Homo sapiens: one gene and its partners. The gene in region 1 interacts genetically with each later gene. Each region holds a gene or a part of one and is shown in the gene's direction. Other genes may lie near its edges. The genes, in order: NDUFB2, ATP1A1, SDHC, PGK1, FH and RTF1.

Region 1 (6,008 bases):
AGGTTTCGAAGAATTACCTGTATTTAAATGTATAGTTTCTGGGATGTGTGTGAAAGATTTATTTGGTCATTCATTCATACACACATGGACACAAACCTAGAAAAGTATATTCCGCACCCCTAGATTTTTCCTTAGTGTGTCCAGTAGATGGGAGGCTGGGCGAGTAGGTGAGATGGTTGGGGAGATGACGCGGTAGAGAAGAGAATGTCAGGTAGATGGTAAACATCCCGTGGGCAGGTCTGAGGGAGGCTGAGAGTGGACAGCAAGGTGATTATCCAGAACACACGTCCCTGTATCAGCATGTTCTGAGATGAACTGTTCTGTTTTTCTGTTCCAGGTAAAGCTTGAGAGCAACTTTGCCTCCATTGTGTTTGCCATCATGGTGTTGGAGGGGCTTGGCCGCTCACTGGACCCCAAACTGGACATCCTGGAGGCAGCGAGGCCCTTCCTCCTCACGGGCCCAGTGTGCCCCCCGTGATGGGGCAGTGGCCTCTGTGGGCCCTTGTCAAGAGCTGGAGGCCACTCCCAAGAGCCTCTCCTATGGCAGCTGGGACGTTTTAAAATTGGGACACCAATTTCAAATGTAACCCTCCAGTGGTGGAAGGCACACCATGGCTTCCTCTGCTTGGTTTGAGGGTCTGTTCAAAAGCTTTGGGCCAATTAGGGAGTAAAAGGAGGGAAGGGGCCTATCCATTCCATTGTGGAAGCTGGGCCAGGTGCCAGGGACACTCTCCTTCAGGGAAAATGTTATGTGGAGGAGGACGAATAAATTTATTTTGTTTTCCTGTTTTTCTCATTTCTTGACCCGCTATACTCCCTGGTCAGATGGGTACTGCTGGTAGTTCCCAGACTTTGATATTCAGGTTAGAAAATGCCATCAAGTCCTACTGATCTGTGGCATGTGCACACACACACACACACACACACACTCTTTATGTATAAATATCATGCAGGTGCTACCTGCCAGCATAATATACACTTAGGGCAAATTTCATTGTACTTCAAATTATCTTCTTGGTAATTTTTAATAGATTTTGCTAACTCCTTGGTAACTTTTATTACAAGGTAAAACAAAACTGATGAAAGTGGCTGACATACCGGGGACGTGAGCAGAACGGCTTGGCCACTTCCTTAACATGGCCCCGGGTTCACCCGCTAGTCCGGAACTACAGTTTCTCTGCCACAGTGTCTGCGCCTGTCCACTTGCAGGCATTAATTTTGGTGAATATGAAGAGAGTTAATATAACCAGTGTGTCCTCTTCTCCATGGCAGCGCCCAGGGACAGACCTGCAGTGACCACCACCTGCCCCTCTCTGCCAGGCCCAACCACGGGCTTTCTTCTCAGAGCTGAGCTGATGTGGCCGTCTGGCTGACTAGGAGGGGCCCGGGGTCAGCCTGGAGGGGGGGTATTTGTAAAGCTTAATTTCTCTTTTTTTTTTTTTTTAGGTAAAATCACAGTTTATCCCTGCACCTTCATAGATTATGTTGCTCGTCTTAGAGACCACCAGGCAGCGAATGGAGTCAAGCCCTTGCGCTCTCCGAGAGTCCTGCCCTGACTACAGGACTAGTTTCTCCCATTCTTTCCTTCTCCAGGATAAAGTTCCTCATTCCTGTCTTTTAGTGAGCAGTATGGTTTAGGTGGACAGAGATTCCTTTGGTGCAGTTTTTTTCAAGGAGGTGATGTTATTTTTTCCTTCCCAGGTCTTGAGGGGACATTCAAAGCAGGCAGAGAGGGGTTGGGATGGCTCCAGATGGCTGGGAGGGAGAACACCAGCTGGTCACGCAGCCCCTCGTGCCAGTGCGCATCAGGTACAGTGTGGAGGCGGGAAAGGGACAAAAAGACGGCAGTCTCTTCCCTGAGCCTATGCCAACCCAGCCTTAAAGCCAGTGGATCGAATCAAGCCATTTGTGGCATTATCTATTGCTGCGTACGAACTTAGCCTGGCACAATGCCTGTAATCCCAGCTACTCGGGAAGTTGAGGCAGGAGAATCGCTTGAGCCTGGGAGGCAGAGGTTGCAGTGAGCCGAGATGGTGTCACTGCACTCCAGCCTGGGTGACAGAGCAAGGCCTTGTCTCAAAAAGAAAAAAAAAAAAAAAAAAGAATTATACACCACTCAGTTTTAGGAGGGGCAGAACACGGGGAGAGCCCTACAGGATCAGAGGGGCAACCAACAAGCTGTTTCAGAAGGCATGGGGCAGCTCAGCAACCATAAGTTATGCGTGGGCTTTGCTCTCGGGAGAGAGGTTTCCTGCAGCCGAAGGACTCACAGCTAATCTGGGTCAGGAGCGGCTGCCGGCTCCCCCACTCCTGGAGATGAGCGACTCTGTGACGTCACGGGAGGCGCGGGCGGAGCGCCGGGGAAGCGAAGTAGGCAGGGGCGAGGCGGCTGGGGACCGCGGGGCGGACGGGAGCGAGTATGTCCGCTCTGACTCGGCTGGCGTCTTTCGCTCGCGTTGGAGGCCGCCTTTTCAGAAGCGGCTGCGCACGGACTGCTGGAGATGGTGGAGTCCGTCAGTGAGTGTGGGGCTGGGGATGGGGGCCTCGCCGGCCTGTAGCGGACAGCGCGGGTCCCTGGGACGCTCTCACCTTGACTGGGGCGCCTGAAGAGGCCGCGTCCCGAGGCATGCTGGGACCTGTAGTCCGCGTGTCTCCTGAAGCCGCGACTCGAGGAGAGGGACCCCGCTGGCCGGAGGGAGAGGGAGAGACTTCGCTGGGCAGATGGGACACCGTGTGCAGGGCCGTCATGGTAGTAGGGGCCGCCTGCCCTCGGGAGACGCACGCGTGAATGCGGAGCGGGCTGAGCCAGTCGGCGCCGGCGCGGGCGGTCCAGGCGGAGGAAGCAGCGTGCGCGGCGGGTGTGGACGCTCCTGGAGCGAGGCGGGGGGCGGCGGCGGTGAGGCCTAGGGAGGGCGCGGTCCAGGGTCCCGGTGCCTGGCTGCGGAATTTAGGGTAGAGTCTGTTCGGCAGCCTTTAATCGGAGACGTCACGTGGCCGCTTTTTAATGCTGAAAAATCACTCTGGCTGCAGGGAGTGGAGGCTGTCGCCCAGAGAGAGCGCCGTCGGGTGAGAGGAGCAGAAAGCCGGAAGCCAACGCTGGGGCAGCCGTGGCGTTTAGGAGAGTGACAGGCAGAGCCGCCCGCGAGGTGGCCCGAGACGCAGACCGGAGGGCGGAGGGCTGGGGGTGCGAGGTAGGGAGCGGGTGCGAGGTAGGGAGCAGCTGCCGAAGCCGAGTTAGTGGTGTGCAGAGATTCCGTAAGAGCAGGACTGGAAAAGAGTCATGGATGATTCCAGGTCCCTTAGATCATCAGCTACACTTTACCAAGAGGCAGTGTGGGGTCGTGATTCCAAGCGGGATTCTGGCCGCACAGTGGCTGGGTTCAAATCCCACCTCTGCCACACTCCAGCTGTGGGACCTTGGAAAAGTTTCTTATTCTCTTAATGCCTCAGTTTCCTCACCCATTTGGCGTCCATTTGCAAGGAACTAAATGAGTTACTGTTATCTAAAGCGTGTTTGTGTGTTTTAGGAGATGGGGTCTAACTCTGTCAGGCAGGCTGGAGTGCAGTGGCGCGATCCTAGCTCACTGCAGCCTCTAACTCCTGGGCTCAAGTGATTCTCCAGCCTCGGCCTCCCAAAGTGTTGGGAATACAGGCGAGCCACTGCGCTTGGTCTCACTAAAGTGTTTAAAACAATTGCTGGTGCCTGCTAAGGACCGTACAAGTATTCTTTAACTGTTGTTGTTATTAAGGAACTGAGGCCCAGGAAATGAAAGGAGTGACTTGCCTGAAGTCCCACATGGATGAAGAATCTGGAGCTGGGGCAGGTGTGGGGTGGGCAGAAGGCAAAGCCCTGTGTGACTTGGGCAAAGACAGTGATGGAGAGCCATGAGCGACAGCCCTTGGTCCTGCATGAGGAGATGGGGGAATGCCGATCTTCCCTGAGGTGCTGGCTTGTTCGTAACACACACTTGTTTCAGAGTGTGTGATAATTAAGTGCATAAATGTTTATGGAGCATCTTCTATATGGCTGCTCCTTTCTAGGTGCTGAGGATATAGCAGAATACGAGAGAGAATGAAGTGTACATTCTGGAGAGGAGAGACCAGTAGAAAAGAAAGACCTTTTTTGAGTACTGTTAAGGGTTATGAAGAGAATACAGCTGGGGATTAATATGGAGAATGCGTGGTGTGGGAGTAGAAGGGATATTGTATTTGGGGATGGCGTGGGAATGCCTGGGAGTGTGATTTGAAGCGGGACCTGAGGGATGAGAAGTCAGCCATGCAGAGACCTCAAGGGAAGAGCCCGGTGGACATAAGAGGGCAGAGGAGGCATCAGGTGGAGAGGCCAGAGCCCGCAGGGTTGGCAGGAGGCCAGGCTGGAGTGGAGCGTAGGGGAAGAGTGGGAGAGACCAGGTCACAGGGACAAGTGTGGGGGCCGGATTAGAGGGGGCTTTGGAGGACTCGGAATTTTATTCTAAGAATCACAGGGAGCCATTGGAGTTTTAAAGCAGGAAAGTAATGTGGTCTGATTTATTTTTTAAAAATGTAACTTTGTCCAGGCGCGGTGGCTCACACCTGTAATCCCAGCACTTTGAGAGGCTGAGGCGGGCGGATCACCTGAGGTCAGGAGTTCGAGACCAGCCTGGCCAACACGGTGAAACCCCATCTCTACTAAAAACACAAAAATTAGCTGGGCATGGTAGTGTGCGCCTGTAATCCCAGCTACTGGGGAGGCTGAGGCAGGAGAATTGCTTGAGCCCAGGAGGCAGAGGTTGCAGTGAGCCGAGATCGTGCCACTGCATTCCAGCCTGGGTGACAGAGTGAGACCCCGTCTCAAAAAAATAAAAATAAAAATGTAACTAATAGAGTTATGGTGCATTTTTGTTTTTAAACTTGACTCTCAAACATTTGAAGTTGGAACAGCCATTATTTCCTTGGATGTTGTTTCTTCCCCATTCTCTTTCCTTCTTACAGGACTTGCTGATAGTGTCTTACTTCCTTATGTTTTTTGATCTTGAGCTTGTTTTCCCTGGAATTTCTTTGAGATCGTGCTTCTCTTAGTCTCTTGAGGGTGCCACCCCAATTCAGGCTCACATTAAATTCTCGGCTTGGGGTTTTTGGTCCACACAGGTCCAACGCAGGTAATGTGAATTTGGGTGCAAATCTACCTGAGGACTGGCTTCTGATAACAAATTCTTGTTCCCTTGTCCATGGAAGGTTTATTTCTTGTTCACCCTTTTACCATATGGGGTTGCAGCTTTATTCAGTGACCTCGTCATTAGCCTTCCCACCTTGGGTGGGCCCCAGGCTGCGTCTCTTTCCCCACACCTCATGTAGCTATCCTGGTGGAGGTTCAAGGGCTCCCGGTGAAGGCAGCTTCAGTGATTGATTGCTTAGCTTCCAGGCCTTGTTTTTACTTGAATTTTGCTCTTGGTGGATTCCTTCCTTTTGTGCCTGGTCAGTGATGTTTGTAAAAATCTTAAAAATCTCATCTAGCAGCAGAGTTGTTAATTTGGAGGGTTGTTCAGGGTATCTAGTTTGCCACAATGCAGTTCACAACCTGGTTTGGAACATAACATTGTGAATTAGGTGTTGAGTCTTTGCATTCCTTAATCATGGCAATCCTTGTCATTGTTCCTGTGATATAATTGCAGACTTTCAAATCTTTGTTCCAAAAGGTTTCCATTTTGCAGTCCCTACTTCAGGTTATGATTAAAACAACATGTCACTCTAGCAATAACGAAGCGTGGGGAGCTGCTAAGATGGGTTTGAACTATAATGCTGGCATCGGCATTACTCAGATCTTTTTTGTTTTTTTGATACAGAATTTCGCTCTTGTTGCCCAGGCTGGAGTGCAATGGCACGATCTCAGCTCACCACATCCTCTGTCTCCCAGGTTCAAGTGATTCTCCTGCTTCAGCCTCCTGAGTAGCTGGGATTACATGCATGTACCACCATGCCCAGCTAATTTTGTATTTTTAGTAGAGACGAGGTTTTTCCACGTTGGTCAG
Region 2 (5,210 bases), on another chromosome or scaffold:
GAACCCTTGGGCGGAGGTTGCAGTGAGCTTAGATTGCGCCACTGCACTCCAGCCTGGGCGACAGAGTGAGACTCCATCCCCAAAAAAAAGAAAATTAATACAAAGTGGTCACATAAATCTTTTAGAGATCCTTAGTCAATGTCTTTAAAATGTTTTTTAAGTGTTGTGCTTTCTCATTAAAGGTATGATATACCTTTAATTAAAGCTAAAGATATACCACTTTAGCTGTGGTTCCTTTCTGGTAGATGACCTGCCTTTTCCTTTTTGTTTTATTTGTCCACTTGTATGTGTTACTATTTTTCATTTAAACTCTGGCACCAAGAGCTGTACCGAAAGAGGCACCAACAAATGTGGTTGCTCCATAATGGAGAGAATGTCAAGAATGTTGACTATCTTTAGACCTGCTTCATTAATAGATAAGATAGAAACTAAAGAACCCACCCAGTTGGAAGAAGTTATTAGTCAAGTAGTGCTGCACACGTGACCACAGAAGTTAAAAAGGTAAATAATGTGTCTCTACATGTGGCCCACTCCAGTGAATTTGGAGAAGGATTTCTCCTTGGAGTCTTAAGAGGATATTTTTAAATTTAAGTGAACAATGTATTTTATTTGCAACTATTAGTTATGACTGAAACACACATAATACGTTTTGATTTTCTTTTTTCATTTCAGCACAGTGAAATTATAATCTGGACACGAGTTCCTAATTATTGCTTTAGTAGCTGGTAATGCACTTAGGAAAGTTAGAAATGAGTAAAGGAGAACCACAAAATAATAGTAATAGCACCATATGTCATGCATTTTAAGAAAATTGCTAATGTCTACTTTTTGGCCTTAAGTTGTAGTTGTGGGAGGCTGCTTCAGGGGGAGGTGTCTGGAACAAGGGGCTCTTCTGCTCCGCTAAGCTTTGGAGCACCAAGTTCAGGCTTTGTGTAGATAAGCTCAAGGATTTTTCAACAGGGGTGGGGGAGTGGAACAATCTAAATTTAAACTATAGAATCAACATTTTCTTTAAAAATTGTTCCAGTTTTCAAGAGGCGTAGGTGGATCCTGTGAATTATGTGATAATGCACACGCTTTTCCTACATCCTGCTTATGTCAAAACATTTCCAGAGACTTTCATTTTGGAGGTTTTATTTTCAGGCTACAGAATGGGCTGGGCGCTCCCTTTTTTATCTCTTATGCAAAGAATTTTAAGGAGTCTTAGGCTGACTTTTTAATATGGGAAGCTGGTAAAGGTCAGTGTTCTTATGTGAGCACTAAAGATATTTAAATTTGATATGTAATAATGTCTTTGCAAAGCAAAGAATATAAACAGTATAAAAGTACTAGCATTTAGATGTATTGTATCATTTAATCCTTAAAAACATGAAATGAGGTTGGCACTATTCTTTATCTCCACGCTGTGGAAGAGGAAATTGAAATGTAGAAGTTAGTAACTTGCCTAAGGATACACTGCTGGTAAGTGGTAAAGCCCAGGATTTTAACTCAAGGCTGTCTGATTGAGAATGCGGACTCATAAGCACAATATTGCACTCTAAGTTAATAATGTAAAGTTAGTTTCATTCTTTCAGTAGGGAAGATGGAAGGCTGCAGAATAGGGATTTTGATAGCAAAAATCTCCTCATTAACCCCAAAAGGAAGTGGCACTGGCAGGGCCATTCTGAAGCCTACCGGTAGCTTCAGTATTGTTCTTAATGCTCTTGGATGGAGAGAATGTATCTTGAGCCAATGTATTAATAGTAGATTGCTTTGCTTATGTAGTAGGCAATATATGGGTATACATTTTCCTGACTATTATCTTAATGACTATTCCAAATTATGACTACCTTAAAAACTACCAAAATCCCCTGCTCCAGAATTTTCAGTTTCAGATGAGGTTCATAATTCATGGCCTCACTTTTCCCACATTCTCCTACAGGTTGGACGTGATAAGTATGAGCCTGCAGCTGTTTCAGAACAAGGTGATAAAAAGGGCAAAAAGGGCAAAAAAGACAGGGACATGGATGAACTGAAGAAAGAAGTTTCTATGGTAAGTACTAGGAGGAATATTGTATTCCATCCTTATTAAAAATCCATGATTTTTAATCCCCCAGGCCTCACTGTATTCTTCAAAGAACTGCTATATATTAAAAGAGATCATAGCAGCTGTACAGATCTCATCTAGTCGTAGAGGTTAATGTTGAACATATACTTTTTAAAAGCTGTTAGAGGGTAGGAAAAGTTATTCAGTCACTCTGGCATAACCAGAGATAACAGAAGGAACTTAGGTTGATACCATGAGTCTTTGCTTTTCTCTGTATTATATCAAACATTGGGAAATTCAGCCTCTCCAGGCGATGGAAGCTTCCATAGACTTAACCTGTCTAGAATCGACCTGGTCATCAGAGAAGGCAGATAAGGTTTTACTAGATCCCTGAGAGCTGCTGGGTTTCTCTGAAGTGTTATGGCAAATAGTAATGGGCCACGGTCACTCAGCTTTAGCCATTCTCCAGTGAAGAGCTGTCAATGATAACTGTGTGGTTGCAAAGCCACAAAGCGATGGTGAAAATTGTACCAACTTATGCACTGAAGAAAACATCTGCACTTTGTTTAATAAGCTTAATGATAGTAATGAATAATGCTATTTTTTCTGTCATTTTTTTATACTACACTGTTTAACTATTTTCTTTGTTTCTGTTTTCCCTTAGGATGATCATAAACTTAGCCTTGATGAACTTCATCGTAAATATGGAACAGACTTGAGCCGGGTATGTTCTAGTTTGAAAGCTGTTGTACAAAATCCTAGTTTTCCGTATTATATTTTCCCCTGTATTACATACAGGTCTAACCTCAGGGGCTCTAGTAAGAAAATGACAGACACCATCTGCGTATCTACCATGTGACATGCACAGAATTTGGGCATTTATATGCTACCGTTTCTTTTCCCTGAAACTTTTTGAAAGTAGATGTTATTTTCTTTTCCCTATTTTATAGCAGTTGAGAGCCAGTAAGTGGGAACACCAGGACTTGCAGTTGGCTTCAAAGCCATGCTTATGCCTTGACCTTTTGATGATAAATTTTCCCTTTATTTTTCTACATTTGTTAAATAGAGTTGAATCTTTCACCTAGTTGAATCTTCAACAATTCCCATTTTTGCACTTTTCCCAGCTAGCCCATTGCAGTGTGTTATGGTTATACTATCATTTGTTTAGTTATTCTATCATTTAGTTGGAAATTGTTTTGTACAAAAATTAAAGAAACCTTTTCATAAAATAGGCGTTATGTATCCTTGTTATGTAGAGGATTTTGATATTAAATGTGTAACAAATGTTATAAAAGTAAATAGTCTAGGGATGTCTTATTTCCAGATAATCACTGAAATGTCTGGGAATAACTTGAATAGCAAGCCAATATGTAGCATTTTTTCAGTAAGGCATCAAGAGACATGGGTACTGTGGTATTCTGATATATATTGGTTTTTGTCCACAGTTCCTGGTTCATAACTCCCATAGCCCTTATTACAGTCGTTTGTTATAATGTTGGGTGTGTTAGACCTCAGTGGCAGGCTTCAAGAAACAGGATCTCTCTCCTGCCCTCCTTTTCACCTGTCGCAAGGCAGGACTCTAATCTTGTTCCACTTTTCTGATTTTCCAGGTAGATAGTGTTGGAATTGAATTGGAGGAAACCTTGGTGGTGGGGAGAAACCGCCACACCTTTGCTCACAGAAGTCATCTTCTGTGTTGATTGTTGGGGTGTAAGAGTAGAGAAGAGGCCGGGTGCGGTGGCTCATGCCTGTAATCTCAGCACTTTGGGAGGCTGAGACTGGTGGATCACCTGAGGTCAGGAGTTCGACACCAGCCTGACCAACATGGAGAAACCCCGTCTCTACTAAAAATACAAAATTAGCCTGGCATGGTGGTGCATGCCTGTAATCCCAGCTACTCGGGAGGCTGAGGCAGGAGAACTGCTTAAACCTGGGAGGTGGAGGTTGCAGTGAGCCAAGGTTGTGCCATTGCACTCCAGCCTGGACAACAAGAGTGAAACTCCATCTCAAAAAAAAAAAAAAAAAAAAAAAAAAAAAAAGGAGAGAAGAACAAGGTTGAGAGCGTTTTTCTTGACACAAGCACTTTAAGCTCCAAGAGGAGGCCTCGAGTCAGCTCAGAACAACATGCCAACAGTGACTCTGTGCTTACTTTGTGCCAGGCAGTCTCTAGCCACTTCACATCTCACTTAAGTTTTTATTAGAGTCTTAATGAAGTGTGCTCTCTCCGACCTATGCCCATTACTCAAATGCTGCGGGTCTATTTCTTTACTTATAAAATGAGGTTAATAATGCCTAAAAAAGGATTGTCATGAGAATTAAACAAGTTAATTAAAGCACTGAATTCAGTTCCTGGCATGTAGATAGCACTCAAATGTTTGGTAACATGAGCACAAAACACAGATAAATAGATACTTTAGACAAAAATATTTTATTTTTTTTTTGACTTGTTATTTTGAGAGTATAAAAGTGATCATATTTTCCTCTCTTAATGAGAGCTTATATGTAATTGCCTGCTGTCAGTGAATCTTGGGTTTAAGGCCCATTAGAAAAATAGCAGGCTTTAGTAGAGTGGTTTTTTCCAGTGAGTACTTTTCAGTCAACAGGTTTATTGGGAGGTGGCTAAAATGCACATGGAGGTGAGCCCTTCCCTGCCAGACAAGCAAAGAATCAAGCTGTATATTTAAAACTTGGCTGTTAACCCAAAGGATTTCTACAGGAAGTTTTTTTCTCCTTTGATGTTTGTAGAGGGGTTTTTTTTCCCCTCCCGACAAAATCAATACACAGAAAACCCAAAGCTCTTAATTTGCAAAACTGAATGGATTTGTGAAAATAGATACCTTTTTGGCAGAAATGCAATTTGGCATTAATCCCTTGATCTAAAACTTAGAAGAAACCAGGCTGAATTCAAATTTATTGATGGATCAATTTAAAGAGTTTTAATCTGGGTGTTATGAGTTCCTTGGGCCTATTGTTTGCCTGAACCCTGTGGGGACTGGCTCATCAGCAGAATTATTCATGGAGGAATTTGCTAGGTTTTACCTTGGCTCTCTAGCTTGGGACATTTTGTTTCTTCCTTAAATCCTTATTGCAACCGTCCAGCTACCAGGTAGGTATATTGCCTTGTAAGTGCTGGTACAGTTTGCCTTATTTATATTCCACTGCTTCTCAGGGATTAACATCTGCT
Region 3 (5,210 bases), on another chromosome or scaffold:
CCTTGGAAAGATGTCTATTCAGATCCATTTGTCATTTTATTGATTGAGTTGTAAGAGTTTTTTATGTATTCTGGATAAAAGTCCTCCATGATTTGCAAATATTTTCTCCCATTCCTTTGAGTTGTCTTTTCACTTTCTTGATGGTATTATTTGCAGCACAAAAGTTAGTAATTTTGATGAAATCCAATTCATCTGTTTTTTCTTTTGTCATTTATGATTTTGGTGTCATCTGTGAAACCACTGCCTAATCCAAGATCATGAAGATTTATTTCTATGCTTTCTACTAAGAGTTTTATAGTTTTAGTTCTAGCATTTAGGTCTCTAATTCATTTTAATTTAAATTTTTGTGTAATAGAGATTTGAATGATTTAAAATTTTTCCTCTCTTCAGAGGTAGCAACACTAGAAGATAAAGATAAAAAAAGGGCCAGGCGCAGTGGCTCATGCTGGTAATCCCAGCGCTTTGGGAGGCTGAGGTGGGCGAATCACTTGAGGCCAGGAGTTTGAGACCAGCCTGGCCAACATGGCAAAACCCTGTCTCTACTAAAAATGCAAAAATTAGCGAGGCATGGTGGCATGCATCTATAAGGCCAGCTACCTGGGAGGCTGAGGCACAAGAATGGCTTGAACCCAGGAGGCGGAGGTTGCAGTGAGCTGAGATCACGCTTACTGCACTCTAGCCTGGGCAACAGAGCGAGACTCTGTCTCAAAAAAAAAAAAAAAAAAAAGAGAACCTAATTTTTTTTCTGACTCTTCTCTGGACTGAGTACACTGTTTTTACCTTTTCTTAGTTAGATGATGAACTAGATGATATAGCAAGGCTTGATGTCTAAACTGGCAAGTGAAGTTTTTATAGAGACGGATGTTGAAAGGAGGAATAACATACTAAAACATATGGCACATTTAGTTTATGATGAGATCCCAAGTAGTCTGTCTCCCATCATAAACTTGAACATGAGTTTAAATCTTCTCCTTTTCAAGGCCGGGTGCAGTGGCTCACACCTGTAATCTCAGCACTTTGGGAGGCAAAGGTGGGCAGATCACTTGAGGTCAGGAGTTCGAGACCAGCCTGGCCAACTTGGTGAAACCCTGTCTCTACTAAAAATACAAAAATTAGCTGGGCGTTGTGGTGGGCACCTGTCATCCCCACTACTCAGGAGGCTGAAGCAGGAGACTCGCTTGAACTTGGGAGGTGGAGGTTGCAGTGAGCCAAGATTGCACCACTATACTCCAGCCTGGGTGACAGAATGAGACTCTGTCTCAAGAAAAAAAGAAAACAAAAATCTTCTCCATTTCAAAATGGTTTAGAATTGTATGAGGTGCCAGGGGTCCCAGTTTTATGTATCATATTAGTTGTAACTTATGAGCAGCTGTGACAAGCTACTTGGTTTTCTCCTCAGGGGTCTCTCTTTTTGGCATGTCGGCCCTGTTACTCCCTGGGAACTTTGAGTCTTATTTGGAACTTGTGAAGTCCCTGTGTCTGGGGCCAGCACTGATCCACACAGCTAAGTTTGCACTTGTCTTCCCTCTCATGTATCATACCTGGAATGGGATCCGACACTTGGTAAGTTAATTCGGGATTTGCACATTTTCTCTGTGAAGGGAGTGGGGAGACTGGGAGGATTCTTTCCTTCATTACTGGGTTTAGTGCTGTTCTTTTTTTTTTTTCCCAAGAGTGGAGTCTCGCTCTATTGCCCAGGCTGGAGTGCAGTGGTGCGATCTCAGCTCACTGCAACTTCTGCCTCCTGGGTTCAAGAGATTCCTGTGCCTCAGCCTCTTAAGTAGTTGGCGTTATAGACGCATGCCACCACTCCTGGTTTTTGTATTTTTAGTAGAGATGGGGTTTCACCATGTTGGCCAGGCTGGTCTCAAACTCCTGGCCTTAAGTGATCCGCCTGCCTAAGCTTCCCAAAGTGCTAGGATTATAGGCGTGAGCCACCGCGCCCAGCTAGTGCTGTTCTTAAGGTTAGTTGTGACTCAGAGTCCTCTTGGGGAAAGCCAGACAAGTTCACAAGTTCCCCTGTGTGTTACCTGGCAGTCCTGCTGGTGGTGTAGCTGAGCAATGGTATAGGCCTCACAGATACTTGCAGGGTCTCATTGGGAACTCTTCCTTTTTTAATTTAATTTAATTTTATTTTTTGAGACAAAGTCTCGCTCTGTCTCCCAGGCTGGGGTGCAGTTGGCGCGATCTTGGGTCACTGCAAACTCCACCTCTTGGGTTCAAGAGATTCTCCTGCCCCAACCTCCCGAGCAGCTGGGACTACAGGCGCCTCCCACCACGCCCGGCTAATTTTTTGTATTTTTAGTAGAGATGGGGTTTCCCCATGTTAGCCAGGCTGGTCTCAAACTCCTGACCTTGTGATCCACCCCTCTCAGCTTCCCAAAGTGCTAGGATTACAGACGTGAGCCACTGTGCCCTGCTGAACTCTTCATTTTTAAGAGGGATATTTAAAAGAGATCCCTGAAGGCATAGAATGCATGTTTATGACATAAATATTAATTGGTACCTATTTATGTGTCAGGTACTGTTGTAGACACTGGGGATTCAGTTATGAGCTAGATAACCATTGTTGCTGCTTTCATTCTTCCGTTCCTGTTGACCCAGAGTAGTGCTTCTGACAGGACTCAAATAGATTACCTTTTCTTATCTACACATTATATTGCATTTCTGTTTTGAGATGTTGGACAGAATTGGGCCAACTTTAATAGAAACTGGGTGCCAAGAATTCCAGGTTTCAATATTGAGGTTAGGAATCTTTTTTTTTTTTTTTTTTTTTTGAGACAGAGTCTTGCTCCATTGCCCAGGCTGGAGTGCAATGGTGCAATCTCAGCTCACTGCAACCTCCACCTCCCAGGTTCAAGTGATTCTCCTGCCTTAGCCTCCCAAGTAGCTGAGATTACAGGTGCCCACAACCACGGCCAGCTAATTTTTTTTTTTTTTTGGTATTTTTAGTAGAGACGGGATTTTGCCATGTTGGCCAGCCTTACAGGTGCCTGCCACCACACCCAGCAAATTTTTTTTTTTTTGTATTTTTTAGTAGAGATGGGGTTTCACCATGTTGGCCAGCCTGGTCTTGAACTCTTGGCTTCCCAAAGTGCTGGGATTACAGGCGCGAGCCACTGCACATGGCAGGAATCATTTAATAGATTGGAAACTGTCCATGTTGCCTCCTATGTGACCTCATCGTCTGCTCAAAACTGGTTTCTAAAATTAGCCAGGTATGGTGGTGTGCGCCTGTGGTCCCAGCTACCCGTAAGGCTGAGGTGGGAGGATCGAATGAGCCTGGGAGGCGGAGGTTGCACTGAGCCGAGATTGTGCCACTGCACTTCAGCCTGGGTGACAGAGTGACCCCATCTAAAAAAAAAATAGGCGGGCACAGTGGTTCACGCCTGTAATCTCAGCATTTTGGGAGGCCGAGGCGGGCGGATAATCTGAGGCCGGGAGTTCGAGACCAGCCTTACCAACATGGAGAAACGCTGTCTCTACTAAAAATACAAAATTAGCCGGGCATGGTGGCACATGCCTGTAATCCCAGCTACTCGGGAGGCTGAGGCAGGAGACTTGCTTGAACCCGGGAGGCAGAGGTTTCAGTGAGCTGAGATCATGCCATTGTACTCCATCCAGCCTGGGCAACAAGAGCGAAATTCCGTCTCAAAAAAAAAAAAAAAAATACAAAAATTAGCTGGGGGTGGTGGCATGTGCCTGTAATCCCAGCTACTTGGGAGGCTGAGGCAGGAGAATCCAGGAGGCAGAGGTTGCAGTGAGCCAAGATCATGCCACTGCACTCTAGCCTGGGTGACAAAAGTGAAACTCAGTCTCAAAAAAAAAAAAAAGAAAAGATTTTATATTTTGTAGTCTCCCTAGTTTTGCTTCCAAGAAGGCAATTAAAATTCAGTTCTTTCTGTATTTTCATTACTTCTGAATCTGAGTCAACTGTCAGATGGATGCTTTTGCCTTAATTTGACTTTTTATTACTTCCAAATCATAGCCTTAGAGACAAGCACTTTCTGGATTTCAGTCTGGTCCAATAGACAGTTTAATGGAATAAAAAAAATGAGAGACTAAATTACTTATTAAATTAAGTGTCTGTATCAACTGTTCCCTGGGGCAGTGTTCAGTTTGATTTAAAATGACTTTTTACTTCCCTGAGGGGGAGGCAGTAGAGAGGGAGGACATTTCCATTAATGACTTCCTATTCCACAGAACAAAGCTCTGTAAAGAAAATCAGCTGATCAGCTTCCTCTGTTCATATTTTGGCTCAGACAGAGACTTGCCCTATATTTGTCTTTGTCTCAATATGGGGGTAAGAGAGGGGAGGTTTTATAAAATTGCAGAACTTAGAGCTTTTCTGCCCTGGTTCTTGCCTGTGATGGTAATCTTTTTGTTGAGGGAAGTGAAGAACCTAAGGGTCCTTAAGTCTGCTTTTATTTTTTCTTCTAGCAAGTACTGGCTGTGAGTGTGGGACAGGATTTTGTGTTTTCTGTGACAGTCTGCAGTTTTTGGCCTCTGAACTTGATAGTTGACTTGCCAGAAGATCTAATGGGGGAGTGAGGAGTGAAAGAGTAGGATGTTATAGGGTCTGTGGCATTCTAGGGAATATCCCTGCCTACTACTGCTACCCAGTAGGACTCACTCTCTATAAAACATTGTCCTTATTTAAGCAAAACAACTCTTTGTGGAATCTGCTTGACTCCTAATCTCCTAGTTAGAAGCAATTTGAGGGTTGAGGTGGAGGCATCTTCTCATCTTGATTTTTTTTTTTTTTTCTGGGCTTCCATCTTTTCTCTGAACTGACTCCTAATTTAGGCAGTTTTACATTCAGACTGTGGGTGTATGTGTGTATGTGTGTGTTAAGGCGCCATGTATGTGGGAAGTGTGGAAAATGAAGACTGCTTTTGCCCCATGGGCTCATTTAGTGACTTATAATATAATATTAATATGTTAATATCCCTAAGACACAAGAGAGTCAAAATTAGTGTTTTGTTAAATGTGGGGCTGGGGGCATGGTAGCTCATGTCTGTAACCCTAGCACTTTGGGAGGCCAAGGCAGGTGAATTGCTTGAGCTCAGGAGTTCAAAACTAGCCTGGGCAACGTGGCAAAACTTCATCTCTACCAAAAATACAAAAAATTAGCTGGGCATGGTGATGGGTGCCTGTAGTCCCAGCTACTTGGGAGGCTGAGGCAGGAGGATTGCTTGAACCTGGGAGGT
Region 4 (5,210 bases), on another chromosome or scaffold:
ACTGAAGGGTACTATTTGTTTCTAGAAGAAACTTTGGTGTGCAGCCCTGAGTTCTGGTCTTGGTGGAGGTGGTGTTTAAGTAGCTTTTCTTGATAGCTCATCTTCTCTTTCACCTCTACCCCTCAGGGCTTGGACTGTGGTCCTGAAAGCAGCAAGAAGTATGCTGAGGCTGTCACTCGGGCTAAGCAGATTGTGTGGAATGGTCCTGTGGGGGTATTTGAATGGGAAGCTTTTGCCCGGGGAACCAAAGCTCTCATGGATGAGGTGGTGAAAGCCACTTCTAGGGGCTGCATCACCATCATAGGTAAGCGGTCCTATACAAAGCTAATACCCATATAAGCTGGCAGAATTCTGATCAGAGGAAGGTGGAATGGAGAACTTCTTCTATGTCTCTTTATTCTGGGTAAATGTTAAGAGGTAAACAGGTAGGTAATTTACAGAGGAGCCTCTTGGTAAGATAGAGTTGGGGGTTTATCAGCTACCTTTTGGGTTGGGGAGCACACTGCCTTACAGTTTTGGTGCCAATCCCTTTTTTTTCTTTTCTCTCTTTTCCCTTTTTACCTGGCTTTCATTCAACAGGTGGTGGAGACACTGCCACTTGCTGTGCCAAATGGAACACGGAGGATAAAGTCAGCCATGTGAGCACTGGGGGTGGTGCCAGTTTGGAGCTCCTGGAAGGTGAGGGTCTTCTGTTTTTTGGCTTGTTTGGGATAAGGGTGGACTGTGCAGTGAGAGGTGGGTAGAATGGAGTGGAGAAAGTTAGAAGGTAGTGTTGTCATTAGCAGTCATTACTACCTGGGCAGTACAGAGGAACTTCAGATAAAGCTCCTGGCATCCACTGAGGCGGGGAGGGACAGATAGAAACTTGGTCTGAGAGTTATGGTCTAGTAGACCTGGAATCCACAATGTAAAAGTTGGCCAGCTCCTGGCCATATATCCTAAAAAAGAGCTGGCATGTTATTGGGAAGATAAAGTGGGGGAAATCTGGCTTACTGGGCCCTATAGTAATGCTGTCTATGTATGTGTGCTCTCTCAAAAACAGGTAAAGTCCTTCCTGGGGTGGATGCTCTCAGCAATATTTAGTACTTTCCTGCCTTTTAGTTCCTGTGCACAGCCCCTAAGTCAACTTAGCATTTTCTGCATCTCCACTTGGCATTAGCTAAAACCTTCCATGTCAAGATTCAGCTAGTGGCCAAGAGATGCAGTGCCAGGAACCCTTAAACAGTTGCACAGCATCTCAGCTCATCTTCACTGCACCCTGGATTTGCATACATTCTTCAAGATCCCATTTGAATTTTTTAGTGACTAAACCATTGTGCATTCTAGAGTGCATATATTTATATTTTGCCTGTTAAAAAGAAAGTGAGCAGTGTTAGCTTAGTTCTCTTTTGATGTAGGTTATTATGATTAGCTTTGTCACTGTTTCACTACTCAGCATGGAAACAAGATGAAATTCCATTTGTAGGTAGTGAGACAAAATTGATGATCCATTAAGTAAACAATAAAAGTGTCCATTGAAACCGTGATTTTTTTTTTTTTCCTGTCATACTTTGTTAGGAAGGGTGAGAATAGAATCTTGAGGAACGGATCAGATGTCTATATTGCTGAATGCAAGAAGTGGGGCAGCAGCAGTGGAGAGATGGGACAATTAGATAAATGTCCATTCTTTATCAAGGGCCTACTTTATGGCAGACATTGTGCTAGTGCTTTTATTCTAACTTTTATTTTTATCAGTTACACATGATCATAATTTAAAAAGTCAAGGCTTATAACAAAAAAGCCCCAGCCCATTCCTCCCATTCAAGATTCCCACTCCCCAGAGGTGACCACTTTCAACTCTTGAGTTTTTCAGGTATATACCTCCATGTTTCTAAGTAATATGCTTATATTGTTCACTTCTTTTTTTTTTATTTTTTAAAGAAATCTATTTCATACCATGGAGGAAGGCTCTGTTCCACATATATTTCCACTTCTTCATTCTCTCGGTATAGTTTTGTCACAATTATAGATTAGATCAAAAGTCTACATAACTAATACAGCTGAGCTATGTAGTATGCTATGATTAAATTTACTTATGTAACTTTTATTGTCTTTGGCATTAACAGTGTTTCAAAAAATTTTCTGTGTATACCCATCAGTGATTCATTCCCAAATCTTCTAGAAGCATAAGTGTCTCAATATATTAAAACATATTGAATAATCCTTGTTAGAGTTATCCCTGCAGGAGTCCTTAGTGCTCCTTTATCCAATTTGTACTTGATGCCCTCTAGGCAGGGTGTACAGCTAGCTGTTGCTCTGGTATTTCCTATAACCTTCTTGGGGATTTCTTTTACCTCCTGTGTTAGACTCCTGTTTTCTGGATTCCCCCTTTTCCCTCTTTCTTGGTCTACTTTTTGTAGAACACAAGACTCTACTAGCTTCCTGAGAAAGGGTGCCTGGGAGGCAAAATCTCTAAGACTTTGTAAGTCTGAAAATGTCTTTATTCGACCCTTATACTTGATTCCTAGTTTGGCTATATATAGAATTTTAGCCTGAGTATCACTTTTTGAGACTCGAAGCCACTGTTTCATTGTCACTATTGAGAATCTAAATGGCCATTCGGATTCTTTCATCATCTTTATAATTTTACCTTCCTATTTCTTTCCTGTCCTTTTAATGGAGTTTTGGGAGAGAGCAGAGGTAAACATGATTTGAAAAAGCCATGTCTGACCAGAAATTCTGTGCTGGAAAGATATGTATTTCACCTTTAGGGACAAAGAAATAAACTTTTGGACAGGACCACAGAGCTAGTAAGTAACAGCAGGGATTCAAGTCCAGGTTTGTCTGGTTCCAGTGGCTGATGCTTTTCCAATGTGCCTCCGTCCCTGACATGATGCTTCTAGGCTATAGATGCTTCTAGACTCTATCCCTGACATGATGCTTCTAGACTATTTTGTTTAACCCTGGATAGAATAGCAAAAGAAAATTTTGGTGGTTGCTCTAAACAAAACAGAAATTTGAAAGCTCAAGTTTTTTCTTCATTTGTATTTTAGTTAATACTGTACCCATATTTGTAGTTAATTTTAAATTGTACCATGTTTCTGCATACCTCTATGGGTACTCAGGAATTCTAGTCCAATTTTTGTGACTTTTTCCTACTGATTACCTTTCCTCCAACGTTTTAAAAATTATTTCAAATGGAACTGAAAGAAGCATAAACTCCCATAAACCCAGCACCTAGACTCTACAATTGCCAACATTATCTATCCAACAATCTCTGACTGTACCTTTTAAGTACTTTCTACTGGACTGTTTCCAGGATCACCCCTCATTTATTTGGGTTGTTAACCTAAAGAATGAATGGGGGAATCTCCAGTCATAAACAACTTGTCAATTAGGCAAATATTTGAGTTCCTTCTATGTGCTTAAAGACGTGATAGAGGGAATATAAGAGCATTTATGTTCTGAAGGAATTTTTAACCTAACCAAAGAAGATAGTAGATAACTTGTGTGCATATAAGCTAGAACAGTATAAGGGGCCGGGCATGGTGGCTTACGCCTGTAATCCCAGGACTTTGGGAGGCCAAGGCGGGCAGATCACCTGTCAGGAGTTTGGGACCAGCCTGGCCAACATGGTGAAACCCCGTTTCTACCAAAAATACAAAAATTAGCCGGGCGTGGTGGCGTGTGCCACTGTAGTCCCAGCTATTCAGAAGGCTGAGGCAGGAGAATCACTTGAACCCGGGAGGTGGAGGTTGCAGTGAGCTGAGATCACGCTACTGCATTCCTGCTTGGGCGACAGAGTGAGACTCTGCCTCAAAACAAAAACCCCACAAAACAGTATAAGGATGTGCTTTCTAATTTGGAATTATGAATTATTGGTAAAATATTGCAAAGGTGTATGCTTTAAGTTGTAAATTCACCTTTAACCCTAGACTATATATGTGTGTTTATATGCAGAAAAAAATAATTCCCATGTCGTAAGTGAACAATTTGGTTCTTTAGCTCAGTGTTTTCCTGTTTTCTTCATTTCCAAAATTTCCCTCTAGCACAGGGGTTTACACATGATCAAAAAGGAGTATACAATGAAGACACCTTCCTCAGTCCCCTACCTACCAGTTTCCCTCCCCAGAAGCAACCTCTGGAAGACCAGTTTCTTTCAATCTAAGGCTATTTAATATACATTAAGAGGCCGGGCGCAGTGGCTCACGCCTGTAATCCCAACAACACTTTGGGAGGCCCAGGCAGGCGGGTCATGAGGTCAGGAGATTGAGACCATCCTGGCTAACACGGTGAAACCCTGTCTCTACTAAAAATACAAAAAATTAGCTGGGCGTGATGGTGGGCGCCTGTAGTCCCAGCTACTCGGGAGGCTGAGGCAGGAGAATGGCGTGAACCTGGGAAGCGGAGCTCGCAGTGAGCCGAGATCACGCCACTGCACTCCAGCCTGGGCAACAGTGAGACTCTGCATAAAGAGCATACCCATGTGTGTACCTATCTATCTATCTATCTATCTATCTATCTATCTATCTATCTGTATATAGATATATTAAAATGTAAATGGTGGCATACCTGCTGTTCTGTAGTTGATTAGTGTTTTCTTTCCTGCCTCTTGAATATTCCCTGTCACCTTGGATCCCTTAGAACATAGTGTGCATCACATCTTCCATTCTCACCCCGCCCCATGCTGGCTATATTCCTATATTCGTACTCAGATCATAGACACTTGTTTGCTACCCATAAAAGGAAGAACTGGAGGTAACAGTGTCCTCATCCCATTTACCATCAGCACATATTATTTTTTAAAAATTCCACCTAGAAGCTGAAGGACAACAGATTTAAACCCATATTCTTCTACTCATTTTCAATTTGCTTCACTATGATGGTGTCACATGCTGATTCCAGATAAAAGCAAGTGATTTTCTGATATATAACCATTAAACAAATCTTACTGGTCTTTGGCCATCAGAATTACTGGGCTTTGTTCATCTCCCTTGAATCCTAAAAAATGAAAACACTGATAAGCTCAAATTTTTATTAACCTTGGAACAAATGCAATAATTCCTTACAGTCATATAGCATTTTACAATTCTGAAAGAATTTTCACATATACCAATTGAACCCTCACAACAGCCCTGTGAGGTAGGCAGGGTAGGTGTTACTTTCCTACTGCTAGTGAGGAGAACAAGGCTAAGAGGTGAAGTAAGGTCACACAGTTGGTAAATGATGGA
Region 5 (4,400 bases), on another chromosome or scaffold:
ATACAAAAATTAGCCGGGCACGGTGGCGCGCGCCTGTAGTCCCAATTACTCTGGAGGCTGAGACAGGAGAATTGCTTGAACCCGGGAGGCGGAGGTTGCAGTGAGCTGAGATCGCACCACTGCACTCCAGCCTGGCGACAGAGTGAGACTCCGTCTCAAAAAAAAAAAAATTAATTTAATTTTAAGTTCCGGGATACACATGCAGGATATGCAGTTTTGTTGCATAGGTAAATGTGTGCCATGGTGGTTTGCTGCACCTCTCAACCCATCACCTAGATATTAAAACCCGGCATTAGCTATTTTTTCTGCTGCTCCCCCTCCGCCCACAGGCCCCTGTGTGCTTTGTTCCCCTCCTTGTGTCCATATGTTCTCATTGTTCAGCTCCCACTTACAAGTGAGAACATGCGGGTTTGGTTTTCTGTTCCTCTGTTAGTATGCTGAGGGTCACAGCTTCTAGCTCCATCCATATCTCTGCAAAGGACATGATCTCATTCTTTTTTATGGTTGCATAATATTCCATGGTGGATATATACAACTTTTTCTTTATCCTTTATTGATGGACATTTGGGTTGATTTCATGTCTTTGCTATTGTGAATAGTTATTTTGGATTTTTATTTGGCAGAACTAAATGATTGTCTTTTCACTCTTGCTGGGTATTTACAGATTTTTACTAGGGTTCTACAGTTTGTAAATATTTTTATTTCAATACTCATTCTTTTTTCCCCCACTAATTTAAAACTGAGATTTTTTAAAATTACACTTTGTATTTTGGTTTCAGTTTCCTAAAAAGTGTATAGTACACAAACACATCAAAGTATTACTCTTAACCATGTCTGACATATAATAGATAATATATAAGTATTTATTCAATTCCATATGAATGATTAAATGATGAGAAAACTTTCTACCACATTCAATTAAATTTAAGATGCCATTAATTAGAAGATGCACCAATAGGCACCACTAAGAAAGAAAAATGCTACCAATTAAGGTTGTGACTTACCATTGATTACAAGATACATCTTGATTTCAGAGATGTTAAAGTGTGAAAAGAATTGAGAAATGCATAACATATTCTACGGGAGCCCAACCGGAGTATGAAAAATAGTCAATGCAGGATAGGCTAGTAAGCCTAGAAGTAGATAGGCTTCATCCTGTGAGATATTGTTTAACACTTATCTTATAAATATGCTTTTATTTTCAATAATTTTAAGTCATTCCTAAGCCTTCAAGACTGCCTCTTGACAGGTATATAGAACTTTACAACAGGCAGCTGAATCTTTGATGAGAATATCTTTGTCATTGCCATCTACAGCCTTCTTGGTGGTGAGGTAAACATAGTTTGACTACGTGGTTAGGTGAAAAAGGGTAGTGACCAATCCTAAAATAATCTCATATTATTCAACTCCAGAGACTAAGGAGGAGGTCAGCCCCAGCTAGTGTTGGTGGGAGTGAGCATGGCTGCCGTTTTCATTGATCTGTGTCACCAGCATGTTTTGTGGTTCTGGTGGGGCATGGTTCCTGCTGCTGCTGCTCCAGAGACAGCACAGCCATTGGGATTGCACACCTGTGAAAGGCAGACACCTGGGGTCTCGATTTTGTCATACTTTCTGAACTTTATTATGTGTAAAACAGTCTGTATGTACTCTAAACTGAGTAGTATGATTAAACTCAACCCTTTTTACTTGAGGTCCAGAGGAAAACAAAGCTAAAAAGATTATGAACATCTAATGTGAATAAATTAAGAATAAAGTGACCTGTCTTTTCTCTCTAGTGATACATTTTGCCATTTTATGGTGTTCGTTGAACCTCTTTCTGCTGTGAATGACCCTTTTTTATTTTTATGGTCCATAAACACTGGGGGTCATTCACTCCATTCAGATGGCCAGCGTTGATTGGCATTCACCTTTGCCCTTGGTAGTGGTTCAGCCCACTACCTCAGTGTTTGTTACTGTGGAGATTTAAATTCCCATTTGTTTTTGTGTTTAAAGTTTTTAAGTTTCTAATCCTGTGTGCCATCTGTCCTCATTTCGTTTGAGTCAAACGTTTCTAATGTTTTAATTTTAGTTACTTAAAATTGAAATTTCAAATTTTCTGGTTTTCCTTTTCTATTTGACCCTCAGCTTATACTTACTCTGGTCCAGGTTTATGTTTTTAATGTGTCTTATTTCTTACTTTTCTTGGCTTTTTCTACTTTGATTCCAGAGATAGCAGGTTCTCTCTTATACATTCATCATTCTCTTCCTTTCTTCCCTTTCTCCCTTCTACTCTTTCCCCATTCAAACCTGGTGTGGGATCTATACAACAATCTGTATTATTAATTTTGACAAGAACTCACAATTCACTTGTCTTATAAAAACTAGGTTTTCATTTCAGTTTATCCTTTTCAAGCTTGGTGAGGTGATTTGGGATAGACAATGAAAATATCTGCATTAATGGGGTTTTATATATATCGGAAGCTGTCACCTTTAGGTCTGGAGAATCTTGGGTTTAAAAAAATAATTCTTCTGAGAGAAATGTCCAGGGAGTTACTGAGTATTAAGGCTTTACTAGCTAAGTAGAATAGATTGCTTTTTGGCCTTGGGGTGAAATGATAACCCAGTCAGTCACTGGTAGTCTCATACTGATTGGCAGTTAAATATATCCCTTATTTATTTATTTTTTTAAGAGGGGAAGGAAACAATTATAATGTAACGTGGGATCCAGTAAGAGAAAATAATGGTTCTTGCTGGTGAAAAGATTGAGTACTAAATTTGTTTTTATTTATAGTATATGAAATAAACACATATAATTTATTGTGTGTATTTGTGCATAGGATTGTATTCGTGTGAATATGTGTGTATATGTATGTGGGAGACGTACACACATATATATATGAAGAGTCAATGTATTTGTTTTTATTTGGTTCCTTAAACAAATAGATCTATGATAATGTTGATTCTTGGTTCATGAATTCCTGTCTATAATCTTTCTCTATAACCGAAACATTTTAGAGCTATAGTGTTACTGTTTTATTGTTATTGTTTTATGTATAGCTTTTGCATCTGCCAAAATAATAAACTTCCATGCTTAAGTAAAATTGTAAATTTGAAATATTTTTCTGATTAATTTTAGACCCCAGTTATTAAAGCTTTTGGCATCTTGAAGCGAGCGGCCGCTGAAGTAAACCAGGATTATGGTCTTGATCCAAAGATTGCTAATGCAATAATGAAGGCAGCAGATGAGGTAGGAGGTGATAAGTGTGTTTGCTTAATAACCTCAGACCCATGCCATACTCTGGATGACGATATGCTCTGGCAGAAGGAAAGGGGAACTGTGAATTCTTGAATTAATGAATTTCAGGGGAGGGTGGTAGCATTATTTTTAGTGGTGATATTAATATGGTGCTTAAAACGTTACATTGTGACAAAATTTCTGGATGATTTTATACCTTTTGTTTTTAAGCCTTTTGACTTTCCTTAATTTATATAGTTTTAAGAAAATTTTTTGAAAAGATATCATTTGAACTTTACTTGATTTTTTATTTTATATATAAATCTTTTTAAAACCAGTTGATTATTTGATAATGCATATTGAGAATGTAATTTTACTAATATGCTAATAACATTGTCTTAAAGAAGCAATCAGAGGTAACAGAACTGTATATATAGTGTTGTTAATTACAGCACTATTTATAATAATGAAAACAAATTAGACAATGCGTAACTATAACAGCTACTTATATAAATTATATTTATATGGTAAATTATAGAAAATTACTTTTTTGAAGATTGGCATGCACAAAGCCTAGCCTATGAGAAATAGGGAGGAAAGTTTGCAAAAATATATGTATTTTACGATCCTAATTTTGTTTAGGAAAAAATGAACAGAAAGTGTGTGTTTCTCATATACACACACACACACACACACACACACACCCTCATTGCATGAGATAGAGACTGGGGATGCCAACATGCTAATAGTCATAATTACTGAGCAATAGAACTATAGTGACTGTTTTACTTTTCTCAGTTCTCAAAATTTTCTACACTAATCACATATTTTTATATAACCAGAAAAAAGTTTTATTTTAAAGTGGACCAGTTGTTCAAGGTAATAGATTTCTCAAGTGCATTCTGATTTTTTAAGCTAAAATCATTCCAGAAGATTGTTAACCACCCATATTTTACAAAGCACACCATCCAAAAACTAACACATAAGCTGGATGTATAAAAATACAACAAAAATAGGGGCAAATCTGGGCAGCGTTTATTTCTACATTTGGTGATTACTGCTCATTGGACATCTGTGCAATGAAGTAGCTATTAGTGAACTCACATTTTCAAGTTACTAGCTCATTAGCATGCTGACTCTGGCAATAACATCTGTTGGATATTCCTGCTGAGCACCAGCAACAAAT
Region 6 (5,210 bases), on another chromosome or scaffold:
TTTTTTTTTTTTTTTGAGATGGAGTTTTGCTCTTGTTGCCCAGGCTGGAGTGCAATGGCACAATCTCGGCTCACTGCAACCTCTGCCTCCCGGGTTCAAGCAATTCTCCTGCCTCAGCCTCCCCTGTAGCTGGGATTACAGGCGCCCACCACCACGCCCAGCTAATTTTTGTATTTTTAGCAGGGACGGGGTTTCACCATGTTGGCCAGGCTGGTCTCCATCCACCTCCTGACCTGAGATGATCCACCCGCCTCTGCCTCCCAAAGTGCTGGGATTACAGGCGTAAGCCACTGTGCCTGGCCAATTTTTGTATTTTAAGTAGAGACAGGGTTTCACTATGTTGGCCAGGCTGGTTTCCAAGTCCTGACCTTAAATGATCCTCCTGCCTTGGCCTCCCAAAGTGCTGGGATCACAGGCGTGAGCCACCACACCGGCCTGGCTAATTTTTCTTTCTTTTTTTTTTTTTGAGACTGAGTCTCGCTCTGTCCCCCAGGCTGGAGTGCAGTGGCGCAACCTCGGCTGACTGCAAGCTCCGCTTCCCGGGTTCATGCTATTCTGCCTCAGCCTCCCAAGTAGCTGGGTTTACAGGCGCCCGCCACCACACCCAGCCAATTTTTTGTATTTTTAGTAGAGATGGGGTTTCACCGTGTTAGCCAGGACGGTCTTGATCTCTTGACCTCGTGTTCTGCCTGCCTTGGCCTCCCAAAGTGCTGGGATTACAGGTGTGAGCCACCGTGCCCGCCGGCCTGGCTAATTTTTCATATTGGCCAGGCTGGTCTGGAGTTCCTGACCTCAGGTGATCCACCCACCTCGGCTTTCCAAAGTGCTGGGATTACAGGCGTGAGCCACCTCTCCTGGCCCTGTAATTTTTTTTTCTTTTTTTTTTTTTTTTAGAGAGGGGGGGTTTGCCATGTTGCCCAGGCTGGTCTTGAACTCCTGGCCTCAAGCAATTCGTCCACCTCGGCTTCCCAAAATGCTGGGGTTACAGGTGTGAACCACCACCCCCAGCTTCAGTGACTTTTTTTAGTGACTATAAGAATGGTTTAGTGTGCTGATTATTAAGACAGAGGTTCAGAGCCATCATAGAAAATTGATATTTTAGTAGTTCGTTTGTTTAGCTTCAGGGCAGTGCAATATGGAAACTCTGGAATTTCCTGAATCTTTTTTACTTTAAAAGCTCTTTATATGGATTGCATTTAATCTTTGTAGTCTTTTTTATGTAAGCACCATTAGCATCCTGTTCTCTAGCCAGCAGCACCAGTAGTGAGATGTCATTTTCAGTTGTTAGATTATTCATGGGGGCAGGAAGCATAAAAGGTAGCCTGGTTGTAGAAAGGGCACTGACATTGCAGTTAGAAGGTCTAGGGGTCAAGTCAGACTCGCTGGAGGGGTGATCGGAGTTAAATCACTTTCTCTTCCTGCCTCAGCTTCCTCCTGGGGGTTGTTGTAAACCTCAAGAGAGATTATATACATAAGAACATTATGTAAATGTAAACTATCACTAACTCTAAAAAATAACTTTGTTTAAAATAACCCACTTAAAGTGTATAATTCATTGGTTTTTATATGTCCACAGAGTTGTGCAATCATCACCACAATTAATTCTAGAGCATTTTGTCACTCCTGTATTTCCCCATAAGCCTCCCAGCCCTAGGCAACCACTAATCTCCTTTCTGTCTCTCTAGATTTGCCTATTCTGGATATGTTTATTATTATTGTTGTTGTTATCAAGACAGGGTCTCGTTCTGTCACCCAGGCTGGAGTGCTGTGGCATGATTATAGCTCATTGAAGCCTCGACCTCCTGTGTTCAAGCAATCCTCCCACCTCAGCCTCCCAAGTAGCTGGGACTATAGGCGTGTGCCACCACCTGGCCAATTTTTTAAACTTTTATTAAAGAAGAGGTCTCGCTATGTTGTCCAGGCTATTCTTGAACTCCTAGCCTCAAGCAGTCCTCCTGCCTTGGCCTCCCAAAGTGTTTAGATTACAGGCATTAGCCACCATGGCCGACCTGGATATTTTATATAAATGAAATCATAATATGTAGTCTTTTGTGACTGACTTCTTTCACTTAGTATGTTTTTGAGGTTTATCCATTTAGCATGTATTAGTACTTCACTCCTTTTTATGTCTGAGTAATATTCCATTTTATGTATATACCACATTTTGTTTATCTGTCCATCTGTTGATTTATATTTGTGGTGTTTCCTCCTTTTTGCTATTGTGACTGGTGCTGCTGTGAACGTTTATATACAACAATTTGAGTACCTATTTTCAGTTCTTTTGAGTGTATACTGGAAAGTAGAATTGCTGGCTGGTACGGTAACTCTTTCTAACTTTTTGAGAAACTGCAGCTGCATCATTTTAGATTTCCCATCGGCAATAAGTGTACTAGTTTCTCCACCTCTTCACTAACACTTTAACACTTGTCTTTTCCTTTTTTTGTTGTTGTTGAGACAGGGTCTCACTCTGTCGCCCAGGCTAGCTAGAGTTCAGTGGTATGATCATGGCTGGCTGCAGCCTCAATCTCCTGGGCTCAAGCAGTTCTCCCACCTCAGCCTGCCAAGTAGCTGGGACTACAAGCATGTACCACCATGTCCAGCCAATTTTTAAAATTTTTGTAGAGACAGGGTCTCACCATGTTGTCCAGGCTAGTCTCCAACTCCTGGACTCAAGTGATCCTCCTGCCTTGGCCTCCCAAAGTACTGGAATTACAGGTGTGAGCCACCGTGCCTGGCCTCCCTTTTTGTGATAATAGCTATCCTGGTGGGTGTGAAATGGTCTTTCATTGTGTGTTTTTTGTTGTTGTTTGTTTGTTGTTTGTTTTCAAGACGGAGTCTCACTCTGTCGCCAGGCTGGAGTGCAGTGGCGTGATCTTGGCTCACTGCAACCTCCGACTCCTGGGTTCAAGCAATTCTTCTGCCTCAGCCTCCCGAGTAGCTGGGATTACAGGCACATGCCACCATGCCCAGCTAATTTTTGTATTTTTAGTGGAGATGGGGTTTCACCATTTTGGCCAGGATGGTCTCAATCTCCTGACCTCGTGATCCGTCCACCTTGGTTTCCCAAAGTGCTGGGATTACAGGTGTGAGCCACTGCACCGGGCCTGTTTGTTTGTTTGTTTATTTTTTGAGATGGAATCTCACTCTGTCGCCCAGGCTAGAGTGGCGCAGATGAGTACAGCAATACCCTATATATGTTCTCTTTCTCTCTCTTTTTTTTTTTTTGAAACGGATTCTTGCTCTGTCGCTAGGCTGGAGTGCAGTGGCGCGATCTTGGCTCATTGCAACCTCCCTCCCGGATTAAAGCGATTCTCCTGCCTCAGCCTCCCAAGTAGCTGGGACTACAAGTGTGCGCCACCATGCCCAGCTAATTTTTGTATTTTTAGTAGAGACGGGGTTTCACCATGTTGGCCAGGATGGTCTCGATCTCTTGATCCCCCCGCCTCGGCCTCCCAAAATGCTGGGATTACAGGTGTGAGCCCCTGTGCCTGGCCCGTAGTCTCTCATTTTAAACATATTCCAACTTAATGCTATCAAATATTTTATATTTTGTTGTAATTAACATATTAAATATTTTTAATGTACTTAAAAGGTACACCAGAGTTTCTTGCAGGAAAGCCAAAATATCTATTAGCTCCTTTCCCTTAGTTCCTTTCTCCTATCTAATAGAAATCAGTTTTTATATACATTTCATTGCTACTTAAAAACCAAATATCTTTTAACCAGATTTGAAATCAAGAAAAAACTAAAAACAGCCAAAAAGAAAGAAAAGAAAGAAAAGAAGAAAAAGCAAGAAGAGGAGCAAGAAAAGAAAAAACTGACACAGATTCAAGAATCTCAGGTAGGAGATTCAGTGTTCCTCATTGTCCAAAGAATAAACCTGTTTTGAGTGTGTGTGTGTGTGTGTGTGTGTGTGTGTGTGTAAAAGGTGGATTTATATTAATCAGCCTAAGTTTATAAGACTTGTGACATGGTTTCATTAATCTCTGGACATATCACCATTAGCTGTGCTGTTAAATCCTTAGCACTTTTTCCTTTGCTTTCCTTTTTCCTTTTCTTTTTTCTTTCTTCTTTCTTTTTCCCTTTTCTTCCCCTCCCTTCCTCCTTCCCCCTTCCCTTCCTCCTTCCCTTCCTCTTCCCTTTCCCTGGTCTCATTATGTTGCCCGGGCTAGAATACAGTGGCTATTCACTGGCACAGTCATAACACACTGAAGCCTCAAACTCCTAGTCTCAAGCAGTCCTCCTGAGTTGCTGAGACTACAGGCATATGCTACCGTGCCCGGCTTTCACTGAAGTCTGCATTTAAAAAGCAGCCCTCAACTGCAGTGACTCACATGTGTAATCCCAGCACTTTGAGAGGCCGAGGCAGACAGATCACTCAAGGCCAGGAGTTTGAGACCAGCCTGGCCAACGTGGCGAAATCCTGTCTCTACTAAAAATACAAAAATTAGCCTGGCGTGGTGGCTTATGCCTTTAATCCCAGCTACTCGGGGGGCTGAGGCACAAGAATTGCTTGAACCTCAGAAGCGGAGGTTGCAGTGAGCTGAGATCATGCCATGGCCCTCCAGCCTGGGCAGAAGAGCGAGGCTCTGTTTTAAAAAAAAAAAGCAGCCCACTAGTGAGTGACCATCCCTTAAGGAAAAGTTGGTAAACAACCTGTCCTAGGTAGCCAGATGCTTATGATGTTTACTTAGATGTATATCATCCTTTACTTGGTATAAATATAGCTGGGAAAATAATCTCTGTATTTATCATAAATGAGACTCCATCTCAGAAAAACAACAAAAAAAGATAATGTGGGGCTGAGTGTAGTGGCTTATGCCTGTAATCCCAACATTAGCTGTGTTGTAGTGTGTTCTTCCAGAAAGAGTTTATTCGGATAATTCTTGAACTTGGAATAGGCATTTTAGACAGGGCTTACTTTACTGCGCTATCCTCTTTGTCCACAAGAGGATGCTCTCTCCCCTTACATAAAAGCTCTAAGTTTTTGCAGCCCATATAGATTGATGTTGGAGGACTAAATGCATTAAGTAGGTTTAGAGAATCTTATCAGCTGTTGGTAAAAAGGGCCATTCTATATATCCTTCCCTTCCTAGGTAACATCCCACAACAAGGAACGGCGTTCCAAGCGGGATGAGAAACTAGACAAGAAATCTCAAGCCATGGAGGAGCTAAAAGCAGAGCGAGAAAAACGAAAGAACAGAACAGGT

Evidence for each region.
Region 2: changes in NDUFB2 (region 1) and ATP1A1 together harm fitness more than expected from each alone (negative genetic interaction), as found in Homo sapiens cells (one large-scale study listed by BioGRID).
Region 3: changes in NDUFB2 (region 1) and SDHC together harm fitness less than expected from each alone (positive genetic interaction), as found in Homo sapiens cells (one large-scale study listed by BioGRID).
Region 4: changes in NDUFB2 (region 1) and PGK1 together harm fitness more than expected from each alone (negative genetic interaction), as found in Homo sapiens cells (one large-scale study listed by BioGRID).
Region 5: changes in NDUFB2 (region 1) and FH together harm fitness less than expected from each alone (positive genetic interaction), as found in Homo sapiens cells (one large-scale study listed by BioGRID).
Region 6: changes in NDUFB2 (region 1) and RTF1 together harm fitness less than expected from each alone (positive genetic interaction), as found in Homo sapiens cells (one large-scale study listed by BioGRID).

The regions. Positions count from the first base shown.
Region 1 is NC_000007.14:140,694,326-140,700,333, forward strand, and holds the start of NDUFB2 (NADH dehydrogenase [ubiquinone] 1 beta subcomplex subunit 2, mitochondrial precursor), read left to right. Parts: upstream 1-2,382; 5' UTR 2,383-2,419; coding exon 2,420-2,517; intron 2,518-2,589; exon of another isoform or gene 2,590-2,752; intron 2,753-6,008. Other genes in the region: ADCK2 (uncharacterized aarF domain-containing protein kinase 2), read left to right, coding at 338-478. UniProt on the Homo sapiens protein: Accessory subunit of the mitochondrial membrane respiratory chain NADH dehydrogenase (Complex I), that is believed not to be involved in catalysis. Complex I functions in the transfer of electrons from NADH to the respiratory chain.
Region 2 is NC_000001.11:116,382,093-116,387,302, forward strand, and holds part of ATP1A1 (sodium/potassium-transporting ATPase subunit alpha-1), read left to right. Parts: intron 1-1,277; exon of another isoform or gene 1,278-1,461; intron 1,462-1,921; coding exon 1,922-2,032; intron 2,033-2,690; coding exon 2,691-2,750; intron 2,751-5,195; coding exon 5,196-5,210. UniProt on the Homo sapiens protein: This is the catalytic component of the active enzyme, which catalyzes the hydrolysis of ATP coupled with the exchange of sodium and potassium ions across the plasma membrane.
Region 3 is NC_000001.11:161,355,278-161,360,487, forward strand, and holds part of SDHC (succinate dehydrogenase cytochrome b560 subunit, mitochondrial isoform 1 precursor), read left to right. Parts: intron 1-1,399; coding exon 1,400-1,563; intron 1,564-5,210. UniProt on the Homo sapiens protein: Membrane-anchoring subunit of succinate dehydrogenase (SDH) that is involved in complex II of the mitochondrial electron transport chain and is responsible for transferring electrons from succinate to ubiquinone (coenzyme Q).
Region 4 is NC_000023.11:78,124,748-78,129,957, forward strand, and holds the end of PGK1 (phosphoglycerate kinase 1), read left to right. Parts: intron 1-126; coding exon 127-304; intron 305-579; coding exon 580-678; intron 679-1,042; coding exon 1,043-1,083; 3' UTR 1,084-4,548; downstream 4,549-5,210. UniProt on the Homo sapiens protein: Catalyzes one of the two ATP producing reactions in the glycolytic pathway via the reversible conversion of 1,3-diphosphoglycerate to 3-phosphoglycerate.
Region 5 is NC_000001.11:241,512,429-241,516,828, reverse strand, and holds part of FH (fumarate hydratase, mitochondrial), read left to right. Parts: intron 1-3,115; coding exon 3,116-3,226; intron 3,227-4,400. UniProt on the Homo sapiens protein: Catalyzes the reversible stereospecific interconversion of fumarate to L-malate. Experiments in other species have demonstrated that specific isoforms of this protein act in defined pathways and favor one direction over the other.
Region 6 is NC_000015.10:41,461,045-41,466,254, forward strand, and holds part of RTF1 (RNA polymerase-associated protein RTF1 homolog), read left to right. Parts: intron 1-3,726; coding exon 3,727-3,841; intron 3,842-5,096; coding exon 5,097-5,208; intron 5,209-5,210. UniProt on the Homo sapiens protein: Component of the PAF1 complex (PAF1C) which has multiple functions during transcription by RNA polymerase II and is implicated in regulation of development and maintenance of embryonic stem cell pluripotency.